Linked DNA regions of Homo sapiens. The protein of the gene in region 1 binds, or shares a complex with, the protein of each later gene. Links are inferred from orthologs where the notes say so. Each region holds a gene or a part of one and is shown on either strand. Other genes may lie near its edges. The genes, in order: F2RL3 and F2.

What was found.
Region 2: the proteins of F2RL3 (region 1) and F2 are in contact, whole or in part, in a crystal structure (PDB 2PV9), measured with the Mus musculus proteins. The link is inferred for Homo sapiens from one-to-one orthologs. Residues at the interface, in NP_032001.2 of Mus musculus: Asp54, Lys55, Pro56, Asn57, Pro58, Arg59, Gly60, Tyr61, Pro62, Gly63, Lys64, Cys66, Asn68, Asp69, Ser70; in NP_034298.1 of Mus musculus: Glu385, Leu386, Leu387, Cys388, His403, Tyr407, Trp410, Asp411, Arg428, Arg453, Glu454, Asn455, Leu456, Trp501, Gly502, Asn503, Trp508, Thr510, Gln516, Arg538, Ile539, Asp559, Ala560, Cys561, Glu562, Gly563, Asp564, Val585, Ser586, Trp587.

Annotation. Positions count from the first base shown.
Region 1 is NC_000019.10:16,884,297-16,892,277, reverse strand, and holds the start of F2RL3 (proteinase-activated receptor 4 preproprotein), read right to left. Parts: upstream 3,280-7,981; 5' UTR 3,089-3,279; coding exon 2,980-3,088; intron 2,706-2,979; coding exon 1,657-2,705; 3' UTR 1-1,656. UniProt on the Homo sapiens protein: Receptor for activated thrombin or trypsin coupled to G proteins that stimulate phosphoinositide hydrolysis. May play a role in platelets activation.
Region 2 is NC_000011.10:46,735,964-46,740,037, forward strand, and holds the end of F2 (prothrombin preproprotein), read left to right. Parts: intron 1-3,084; coding exon 3,085-3,155; intron 3,156-3,301; coding exon 3,302-3,445; 3' UTR 3,446-3,543; downstream 3,544-4,074. UniProt on the Homo sapiens protein: Thrombin, which cleaves bonds after Arg and Lys, converts fibrinogen to fibrin and activates factors V, VII, VIII, XIII, and, in complex with thrombomodulin, protein C. Functions in blood homeostasis, inflammation and wound healing.

The DNA.
Region 1 (7,981 bases):
AGGCTCTGGGCCTGGTGGGGCCACAGCATTGGGCACTGAGGATGGGGTGCCCTCAGCCTCCTGGGCAGGAACTTGCAGTGAGTCTCCAGGGAATGCAGCCCCAGCCCCAGCTCCAGCCCCATCTCAGACACCAGTGCGTCGTGGGCTGCATCCAGCCCAGAAAGCCGAGCCAGAGATGCTGGCAGGGCCCAGGAAGCAGAGTTTGATCCTGTTTCAGATTCCTGGGCTGCCCTGACAAAGTGCCACATGCCAGGCAGCTTAAAACAATGAGAGTTTATTGTCTCACAGTTCTGCAGGCCAGAAGTCCAGGGTCAAGGTGGTGGCAGGGCTGGTTCCCTCTGGAGGCTGTGAGGGAGAGCCCGTCCCAGGCCTGTCTCCTGGCTGCTGGTGGCTGTTGGCTGTGCTTGGCATCGTGGCATCCCTTAGTTTGTGTCCGTCCGCATCACTCCCATCTCTGCCTCTGCCGCCACATGGCTTTCTTCTCTGTGTGTCTCTGTGTCCTCTCCTCTTCTCTTTTTTTTGGAGACAGAGTCGCTCTTTCGCCCAGGCTGGAGTGCAGTGGCACCATCTCAGCTGACCGCAACCTCCGCCTCCCAGGTTCAAGCGATTCTCCTGACTCAGCCTCCCCAGTAGCTGGGTGGGCACCTCCCCAGTACAGGTGCCCACCACCACGCCTGGCTAATTTTTGTATTTTTGGTAGAGATAGGATTTCACCATGTTAGCCAGGCTGGTCTTGAACTCCTGGCCTCAGATGATCTGCCCACCTCGGCCTTCCAAAGTGCTGGGATTGCAGGTGTGAGCCACCACACCCACTATCTCTCGTCTTCTTTTTTTAATTTTAGTTTGTTTATTTTTGAGACAAGGTCTTGCTCTGTTGCCCAGGCTGGAGTGCAGTGGTACAATCATAGCTCACTGCAACCACAACCTCCCAGGCTCAAGTGATCCTCCCGCCTGTGCCTCTTGAGTGGCTGGGACTATAGGCGCATGCCACAATGCCTGGTTCATTAAAAAATTTTTTTGTGTGTAGAGATGGGATCCCCCTATGTTGCCCAGGCTGGTCCCAAACTCCTGGCTTCAAGCAATCCTCCATCTTGGCCTCCCAGAGTGCTGAGATTATAGGCGTGAGCCACTGCACCTGGCCGTCACTTTTCGTCTTTTTAAAATTGAATTAAATTAATTAATTAATTAATTTAGAGACAGGCTCTCTGTCACGCAGGCTGGAGTCCAGTGGCGCAATCTCGGCTCACTGCAACCTCTGCCTCCCAGGTTCAAGCGATCCTTCTGCCTCAGTCTCCTGAGTAGCTGGGATTACAGGCGCCAGCCACCAAGCCCAGCTAATTTTTGTATTTTTGGTAGAGATGGGGTTTTACCATGTTGCTCAGGCTGGTGTTGAACTCCTGGGCTCAAGTGATCCATCCGCCTTGGCCTCTTAAAGTGCTGGGATTACAGGCGTGAGCCACCAGGCCTGGCCTCTCCTTATCTTATGAGGACACCACCCACACTGGATGTAAGGCCCACCCTTCTCCAAAGTGACCTCCGCTAGTGACAGTTGTAACAACCCTATTTCCAAATAAGGTCACATTCTGAGGTCCCAGGAAGGACGTGAAGTGGGGGAAGGGACCCTGTTCGACCCAGTACAGCCTTCCCCACTTTGTGTCACTGGAGCAAAGAGGAGTGGGTGCCCATGCCCCGGCTGCCCCCTTCCGCAGAGGCCTTGGAGGCCACGGTGTCCCCCGGCGACCGTTGGAAGAGCCCTGCCCGCACCTTGTCCCTGAACTCGGCCGACACGTAGTAGTAGATGAAGGGATCCACGCAGCTGTTGAGGGTGCTCAGCGCCAGGCTGGGCACGTAGGCACCATAGAGGTTGCCCCAGGCGCTGGGGCTCGGGTCCGAGTAATGCAGCAGCAGCAGCAGGTTGCTGGGCACGAAGAAGGCCACGGCGGAGGCCAGCACCACTGCGGTCAGCCTCAGCGCGTGGCCGTAGCGCCGGCCGCTGGCCGCCAGCGTGTGCAGGGTGGCCCCGTAGCACAGCAGCATGGCCAGCAGGGGCAGGAAACAGCCCAACAGCGCCAGGCAGGTGAAGGCCGGTTGCCAGTGGGAGGCCTGTGCGTCCAGGGGCAGCGCGTCATGGCAGAGCACGCGATCGGAGCGCGCCAGCCGGAAGGTCTGCCGCTGCAGTGTCAGGGGCAGTGCCAGGGCGGCCGCCATGAGCCAAGCAGCCATGCAGAGTCCAAGGGCCAGGCGCCGGCCACGCAGGGCGCGGGCCCGCAGCGGGTGCACCAGGGCCAGGTAGCGATCCAGGCTGACGGCGGCCAGCAGCAGCACTGAGCCATACATGTGACCATAGAGTGCGGCCGTGGCCAGGCGGCAGGCGGCCTCCCCGAAGGGCCAGCGCTGGCCACGCAGGTGGTAGGCGATCCGCGGGGGCAGCGCCAGGGCCAGCAGGAGGTCAGCAGCCGCGAGGTTCATCAGCAGCATGGTGGAGGGCAGCCGAGGTGCCTGCGTGGCCAGCACCCACAGCGCCAGCCCATTGGCCGGCAGCCCCACCACCAGGACCAGCCCATAGAGGGCGGGCACCAGCCTGGTGGGCACCCAGCCCAGAAGCAGTGCCCGTGAGCTGTCCGGGAGCTCCAGGGTGTCACTGTCATTGGCACAGACTTGGCCTGGGTAGCCGCGGGGGGCAGGCAGGATTGAGGGCGTGCTGTCTGGGAGAGAGAGGGGACCTCAGTCAGCCCCTGCCTCGGCAGGTGACGAGAAGCAGCAGGGAGGGAGGTGCTCAGAGCCTGGGGTCTGCCCTGGTGGGAAACAGCTGGACATGACACTCAAGGGAATAGCCCAGCCCTATGGGGTCAGAGACGGGATACAGAGTGGGCTGGGCTGAAGCCCGCAACTTCCCGGCCTCCCCCTCCCCAGCTCCGGGCCCCCAGCTCCATCTCTGATGTAACCCCATCTCTGCACCCCAAAGCCAGGACCACTCACCATCACCACCTCCGGTGCTCCCGCTCTCGTCGTAGACGCTGGGGGTCTGGGTGCCGCCAGACAGGCTGAACCCCAGCACCAGGGGCCACAGGAGCAGTCGCCCCCACATGACTGCACTCAGGCTGCTCTGGGCTGTGGCCTCAGGCTTCCTGCCTCGCCGGACCCTGAGCCCCAGCTTCTGGAGCCGAGGCGGACGAGCAGATCGCGCCGGTAGAGATAAACCAGGAAGGCTGCCCCTGCCCCCGCAGACCCACCAGGGCCGCTTGCCAGCCAGCCCGTGGGAGGACTGGAGTGTGGGTTATGGAGACCGGGCTGCCCCACGTGGCTATATCCAGTGTGGCGCCTCCCAGGGACCCAGGTGCCAGGCCAGCAAGATGCAGGGGGGGGGGTCCCAGCTGCAGCCAGCACCCCCGGTCCCTGACCAGCCCAGGAAGCATCTGCGGTTCAAGTGGCCACTTCCTGCCAGCCGCTCACATCTGCAGCCACTGTTCTCACGACAGCCCTGTCCTCACCCCAATCCCCACGCCCATCACGGGCTCTGGGCCTTTCCTGAAGTCACCCCCCGACTTCCTATCTCTGGTGAGCAGGATAAGAAGAGCCCTGCTAGGCCAGGCACGGTGGCTCACGGCTGTAATCCCAACATTTTGGGAGGCCAAGGCAGGCAAATCACCTGAGGTTGGGAGTTTGAGACCGGCCTGACCAACATGGAGAAACCCCATCTCTCATAAAAATACAAAAATTAGCTGGGCTTGGTGGCAGATGCCTGTGGTCCCAGCTACTCAGGAGGCTGAGGTGGGAGAATTGCTTGAACCCAGGAGGTGGAGGTTGCAGTGAGCCGAGATCTTGCCACTGCACTCCAGCCTGGGCAACAGAGCGAGACTCGGCAAAAAAAAAAAAAAAAACCAAGGATGGGCGCCTCCCAGAGGGTAATAGCGAGGGTCCCTTCAGACCCCCAGAGCAGCACGAGCCCAGCGTCAGGGACTCTGGCTGAACCTCGAGAGCCCCTCAGCATCCTCGGCTGACCCCATACTCACAAGGCACCCCTGTATGAGTGCCTCACTTCACTCTTGCCCAGGGGACACACGGGCATCTGTAGGGGAGACAGTGATGCTGGGGACAGCACCTGCCGAGGACCGGGGGGACTTCGGGGTGTGTGGCTCGCCTGCTCTGACCTCTGACCCTGAGTGAGGTGGCCAGGTTGAAGGGTCCCCAAGCCAGCCTCCAGGGGGCCTCCCTCCTCTAGCCCCAGCACATCCCCACTCCTGGGTACCATTGGATGGGGGCTCATCGGGCAGATGAAGAAACTGAAGCTCGGGGGGGTACCCCTTCCCTCTTCTGCACAAGGCCCCTCAGTGTTGTCCCTCCCTGCCTCAGAGAGGCCTCAACCCGTCGTGCCCTGGGGGAGTCTGGTATGGGTGGTTCTGGCCCCAGTGTGCTCAGCGCTGGGCTACAGGGGATGGGGGACAGGGCTTGGGGGGGTCTGGGAGCAGGAGGGCCTAGTTGGGAGCCATGAGGATTGGGGAAAATAAAATGAACTAGGGATGGGGGAGGGAGGGGTCCAATGTGGCCGTTTCCTGCCTGGGGGAGCCCTAATCTCATCACACACTTGAGCACTCGGGGATCAGCCAGGAAGTGACTGAGCAGAGTCTTGGACAGAGTCAACACCCAGCTCCAGGAGGAGACACTGAAGCCTGGAGAGAGAGTCTAGCTGGGGCAGGGTCTCAGAGGCCCTGCTCCCATTTCTGGGCAGTTTCCATGGCCACCAATGAGAAAATCAGCTTCACGTCAATGACTTGGGGAAAAAGGTGGCTGAGGACACCCTCAGCACACGGAAAACCCACGCCTGGGCTCCCCCCTCCACCGTCTTCTCTGTGAGCAGAGTGGGAAGCTGTGCAGGGGAGGCTGGGCACACCGGCAGTCCAGTGATGCTGGGGCAGGGTGGTTTGAAGATGATGCATCAAAATAGTGATGCACGACCGGGCGCAATGGCTCACGCCTGTAATCCCAGCACTTTGGGAGGCCAGGTGGGTGGATCACGAGGTCAAGAGATCGAGACCGTCCTGGCCAACATGGTGAAAACCCGTCTCTACTAAAAATACAAAAATTAGCCAGACATGGTGGCGCACGTCTGTAGTCCTAGCTCCTCAGGAGGCTGAGGCAGGAAAATCTCTTGAACCCAGGACGCAGGGGTTACAGTGAGCTGAGATCACACCACTGCACTCCAGCCTGGGCAACGGAGCGAGACTCCGACTCAAAAAAAAAAAAAAAAAAAAAAAAAAGCCAGGCACAGTGGCTCACACCTGTAATCCCAGCACTTTGGGAGGCAGAGGCGGGTGGATCACCTGAGGTTGGGAGTTCGAGACCAGCCTGACTAACATGGAGAAACCCCATCTCTAGTAAAAATACAAAATTAGCTAGGCATGGTGACATATGCCTGTAATCCCAGCTGCTCGGGAGGCGAGGCAGGAGAATCACTTGAACATGGGAGGCAAAGGTTGCAGTGAGCCGAGATTGCATCATTGCACTCCAGCCTCACTCCAGCCTGGGCAACAAGAGTGAAACGCGTCTCAAAAAAAAAAAAAAAACATAGTGACGCACATGCCCTTATACTCAAGGGTTCCATGTCTAGGAATTTCTGCCAGACACACGCACAGGAAGATGTCCTTGGGAGGATATCCACACAGCAGCACAAAGCAGGGAGGTGCCCGCCAACAGCCCCTCCCCGGGAACAACACGGCAGCACAGGCTGTCGGGGGAACCCCAGCAAGCAGAGGTGACGATGACATTGCCCCTGTCAGGCACAAGCTGTACCCAGGCGACACTGCCCAGGTACTTCCCGGAGGACGCTGGGCGCGACAGCTTTGGAGGAGAGGAAACCATGTGTCTGTTTTGTACTGTTGGAGTTTTCTGTGCACTGTGTTACTTTCCATAAAAACTTTTTTTTTTTTTAAGATGGAGTCTCGATCAGTCGCCCAGGCTGGAGTGCAATGGCGCAATCTCAGCTCACTGCAACCTCTGCTTCCTGGATTCAAGCAATTCTCCTGCCTCAGCCTCCCCAGCAGCAGGGATTACAGGCGCCTGCCACTATGCCCGGCTAATTTTGTGTATTTTTAGTAGAGGCGGAGTTTCGTCGTGTTGGCCAGGCTGGTCTCAAACTCCTGACCTCAGGTGACCCACCTGCCTCAGCCTCCCAAAGCACTAGGATTATAGGCATGAGCCACTGCACCTGGCCAAAATATTTTTTATTTAGAGATGGAGGTTCGCTCTTGTTGCCCAGGCTGAAGGTGCAATGGTGCCATTTCGGCTCACTGCAACCTCTGCTTCCTGGATTCAAGCGATTCTCCTGCTTCAGCCTCCCGAGCAGCTGGGATTATAGGCACCCGCCACCATGCCTGGCTAATTTTTGTATTTTTGGTAGAAACGAGGTTTCATCATGTTGGCCAGGCAGGTCTCAAACTCCTGACCTCAGGTGATCCACCCGCCTCAGCCTCCCGAAGTGCTGGGATTACAGGCGTGAGCCACCACGCCCGGCCAAAATCTTATTTTCTTAAAAAGGGCAGACAGCCAGGCCGGGCTGTTTCAGAGTGGTGGCTCATGCCTGTAATCCCAGTGCTTTGGGAGGCCGAGGTAGAGGGATCGCTTGGGCTCAGGAGTTCAAGACCAGCCTGGGCAACATAGTGAAATCTTGTCTCTACAAAAAATCAAAAAATGAGGTGGGAAGATTGCTTGAGCCCAGGAGGTCGAGGCTGCAGTGAGCTGTGATTGCACCACTGCACTCCCACCCGGGTGACAGAGTGAAACTCTGCCAAAAAAAAAAAAAAAAAAAAAAAAAAAGGCAGCCTTAAAAAGTAAGGGAATTCTGACATATGCTACATTGTGGATGAATCTTGAGGACATTATGCTGAGGGAAATAAGCCGGTCACGGAAAGACAAATCCTGAGTCATTCCACTCATGGGAGGTCCCTGGAGTGGTCACCTCCATAGAGACAGGAAGTAGAATGGGTTGGGGGGTGCCAGAGGCTGGGGGAGGGGGATTGGGGAGTGAGTGCTTAAGGCCACAGTGTTTCAGTTTTGCAAGATGGAAGAGTTCTGGGCTGGGTGAGGTGGTTCACGCCTGTAATCCCTGCACTTTGGGAGGCCAAGGCAGGTGGATCACTTGAGGTCAGGGGTTCGAGGCCAGCCTGGGCCACAAAGTGAGACACCCCCCCAACCATCTCTACAAAAAAATACAAAAATTAGCCGAGTGTGGTAGTATACACCTGTGGTCCCTGCTACTCGAGAGGCTGAGGTGGGAGGATCACTTGCGCCTGGGAGGCAGAGGTTGCAGTGAGCAGAGACTGTGCCACTGCCCTCTAGCCTTGGTGACAGAGCGAGACTCTGTCTCCAAAAAAAAAAAGTTCTGGAGATGGATGGTGACAATATGAATGTACTTACTGCCACTGAGCTGAACACTTAAAAATCATTAAGATAAACTTGACCACAATTCAAATAACTTTTTTTTTTTTTTTTTTTTTTTTTGGAGACAGAGTCTCACTCTGTTGCTCAGGCTGGAGTGCAGTGACACAGTCTCTGCTCACTGCAACCTCCACCTCCAGGGTGCAAGTGATTCTCCTGCCTCAGCCTCCCGAGTAGCTAGGATTACAGGTGCATGCCACCACACCCGGCTAATTTTTGTATTTTTAGTAGAGGTGGAGTTTCACCACCTCGAACTTCTGGCCTCAGGCGAGCCGCCTGCCTCAGCCTCCCAAAGTGCTGGGATTACAGGTGTAAGCCACTGCACCTGGCCCTTTAAATAACTTTTTTAAATGGGGAAAAATTGGCAGACAGGCGCAAGTCAGTGGCGTGTCCTGGATTTCATTGTCCTCCAACCCCTCAGGTCCCTGGAAGCTCCTGGATGTGGCCTCCACTCTCTCCTGCCTTCACTGCCTCCAGCAAAAGGTCAGGGTCAGGGAACAAGTTAGAAGCCACATGGGCAGGCTGGGTGCGGTGGCTCATGCCTGTA
Region 2 (4,074 bases), on another chromosome or scaffold:
GGAGGCCGAGGTGGGTGGATCACAAGGTCAGGAGTTTGAGACAAGCCTGGCCGACATGGTGAAACCCCATCTCTACTAAAATACAAAAAATTAGCCTGGCATGGTGGTGTGCGCCTGTAATCCCAGCTACTTGGGAGGCTGAGGCAGGGGAATCACTTGAACCTGGGAGGAGGAGGTTGCAGTGAGCCGAGATGGTGCCACTGCACTCCAGCCTGGCAACAGAGCGAGACTCTATCTCAAAATCAATCAATCAATCAATCAATCTTTGAACTAGTGATTTGAGATTTCACCTTTATCACATTCTAGATTGTATCTTATTTTCATTTATTTATTTGAAATATAGACAAGTCTCCCTGTGCTGCCCAGGCTGATTTCAAACTCCTGGCTGGGCTCGAGCAAGTCTCCCGCCTTGGCCTCCCAAACTGCTGGGATTACAGACGTGAGCCACCATACCTGACCTAGGTTTTATTTTTTAGTTTTATTTTTTCCTGCATCCAGCTAATTTGATTTGATTTGTAGAGACGGGGTCTTGCTATGTTACCTAGGCTGGTCTCGAACTCCTGGGCTCAAGTGATCCTCCTGCCTTGGCCTCCCAAAGTGTTGGGATTACCAGCATGAGCCACGGTGCCCAGCCCCACGTTCTAGATTTCTATGGATAGAGTATGCTTAAGGATGAGTATGTTTCTGGATGTTCGACTCGGCTTTCCTGGTCTGTTGTCTGTCTGTGTACAGCGTCACATTGTTTTAATGATAGAGGCTTTAGCGTACATAGCTGGGAAGGCTAATGTTCTCTTTTAGTTTTTCTTTCCAGTGGTTTCCTGGCAATTCTTGCATGTTTGTTTTTCCATATGAACTTTAGTGTCAACATGCCTAGGTCTATAAAAAAGCTTGGTGGTAATTTTATTGGGATTATGACACTTCAACAAATTAACTGGGAGAATGGACATATTTTTGATGTTGAGTCATTTTATCCAAGGATAAGAAACGTTTTCCTATTTGCTCAAGTCTATTATTGTATCTTTCTTGACTGCTGCAATGTATTCTCTTATAATTTTTTCTATTGGTATCTTATTTTATGTATTTGTAATATCTTATTTTTCTTGAGTAAATTAGTTAATGGCTTGCCGGTTTTCTCAAAACAAATATCTAGGGATTTGATTTATGAAATTATTAGGCCTATTATTTTTCTTTTTTTTGAGATGGAGTCTCACTCTGTCGCCCAGGCTGGAGTGCAGTGGCGTGATCTCAGCTCACTGCAACCTCCACCTCCTGGGTTCAAGTGATTCTCCTGCCTCAGCCTCCCCAGTAGCTGGGGTTACAGGTGCACGCCACCATGCCCGGCTAATTTTTTTATATTTTTAGTAGAGACGGGGTTTCACCATGTTAGCCAGGCTGGTCTCGAACTCCTGACCTCATGATCCGACTGCCTCAGCCTCCCAAAGTGCTGGGATTACAGGTGTGAGCCACCGTGCCTGGCCTTTTTTTTTTTTTTTTTGAGACAGAGTCTTGCTCTGTCACCCAGGCTGGAGTGCAGTGGTGCGATCTCGGCTCACTGAAAGCTCCACCTCCCGGGTTCACGCCATCCTCCTGCCTCAGCCTCCCGAGTAGCTGGGACTACAGGTGTACACTGCCACGCCCAGCTAATTTTTTGTATTTAGTAGAGACAGGGTTTCACCGCGTTCGCCAGGATGGTCTCGATCTCCTGACCTTGTGATCCGCCTGCCTCAGCCTCCCAAAGTGCTGGTATTACGGGCGTGAGCCACTGCGCCCGGCCAGGCCTATTATTTTTCTATTGTGGTTCATTAATTTCTGCTTTTTTCTCTTAAAAAGTTTGCTTACGTTTTTGTCTGGTTTACTTTGCTGTTCTCTTGCTAGCTTTTTTTTTTTTCAGATAGGGTCTTGCTCTGTTGCCCAGGCTGGAGTGCAGTGGCACAGTCATAGCTCACTGCAGCCTTGAACTCCTGGGCTCAAGCAATCCTCTTCTTGCTTCAGCCTCCCACGTAGCTAGGATCAGAGGTACATGCCACCATGTCCGGCTAATTTTTTTTTTTCGAGACAGAGTCTTGTTCTGTCGCTCAGGCGGTAGTGCAGTGGTGCAATCCCGGCTCACTGCAACCTCCACCTCCACCTCCCAGGTTCAAGCAATTCTACCTCAGTCTCCTGAGTAGCTGGGATTATAGGCGCACACCAACATGTCTGGCTAATTTTTGTATTTTTAGTAGAGACAGGGTTTCACCACGTTGGCCAGGCTGGTCTTAAACTCCTGACTTCATGATCCGCCCGCCTTGGCCTCCCAAAGTGCTGAGATTACAGGTGTGAGCCACAGCACCTAGTGAAGGTGTGGTTTTTTTGTGTAGGTTTTACTGTTGTTAGTGTTGTTCTGTATTGTTTGTAGAGGATACGTGGGGAGATTTGGATAAAAGCAACTATCATTATTATCCTCATCAGACTTGTAGGTCTAACTTTTTAATTTTTTAATTTTTAATTTAAATTTTTTTCTTGGTCTTTTATCATTAATTAATTTTTTCGAGACAGGGTCTCACTCTGTTGCCCAGGCTGGAGTGTGGTGACATGATCACGGCTCACTGCAGCCTTAACCTCCCAGGCGCAAGTGATCCTCCTCTCTTAGCCTCCCGAGTAGCTGGGACTCCAGGCATGTGCCACCATGCCCAGCTAATTTTTTGTAGAGAGAGGGTTTTGCCATATTGCCCAGGCTGGTCTTGAACTGCTGAGCTCAAGTGATCCACCCGGCTTGGGCATGAGCCACCTCCCCTGGTCTGGTCCAACTTTTTAAAAGCATTATTCTGCCTGTTGGGTGGAGAATAGACTGTAGGTGGGCAAAGAATGAAGGAAACTAGTGGGTTCAGGAGCTCGAGCTAGAAGTGGTGAGAAGGGTTTGGATTTGGGGTCTATGCTGAAGGTAGAGCCGACAAGATTTGCTAGGATTGGATGGGTAGGGTGAGGAAGTGGGGACAGCAAGAATGACTGGAGGGGTAAGTGGACTCTCACCAGCTGTGTCTCGTGAAGGGGCGTGGCTGGGCTATGAGCTATGCTCCTGAGCACAGACGGCTGTTCTCTTTCAAGGTTACAAGCCTGATGAAGGGAAACGAGGGGATGCCTGTGAAGGTGACAGTGGGGGACCCTTTGTCATGAAGGTAAGCTTCTCTAAAGCCCAGGGCCTGGTGAACACATCTTCTGGGGGTGGGGAGAAACTCTAGTATCTAGAAACAGTTGCCTGGCAGGGGAATACTGATGTGACCTTGAACTTGACTCTATTGGAAACCTCATCTTTCTTCTTCAGAGCCCCTTTAACAACCGCTGGTATCAAATGGGCATCGTCTCATGGGGTGAAGGCTGTGACCGGGATGGGAAATATGGCTTCTACACACATGTGTTCCGCCTGAAGAAGTGGATACAGAAGGTCATTGATCAGTTTGGAGAGTAGGGGGCCACTCATATTCTGGGCTCCTGGAACCAATCCCGTGAAAGAATTATTTTTGTGTTTCTAAAACTATGGTTCCCAATAAAAGTGACTCTCAGCGAGCCTCAATGCTCCCAGTGCTATTCATGGGCAGCTCTCTGGGCTCAGGAAGAGCCAGTAATACTACTGGATAAAGAAGACTTAAGAATCCACCACCTGGTGCACGCTGGTAGTCCGAGCACTCGGGAGGCTGAGGTGGGAGGATCGCTTGAGCCCAGGAGGTGGAGGCTGCAGTGAGCCACTGCACCCCAGCCTGGGTGACAGAGTGAGACCCTGTCCCAAAAGAATCCACTATCTATCTTCAGAGCAGGGCCAGGTGAGAGGAAAGATGGCAGGTTGAATTTACAGGCATTAAAGATGTTCCACCCTCTGGGTTTTAATGGATTATCTCATTTAATCCTCACAAGAGGTAGGTGAGTAAACTGAGATTTGGAGAAGTACCTTGTCCAAAGTCACATGGCTAAGAAAGCTCAAAGTAGGACTTCAAATATAGAAAATATTGAGTGAGGACGGTGCTTTTTTAGTTAACTCCCTACATCTTCCCTTGTATCATTAAAATGATATCAGATCAGGTAGGGCATGGTGGCTCACAC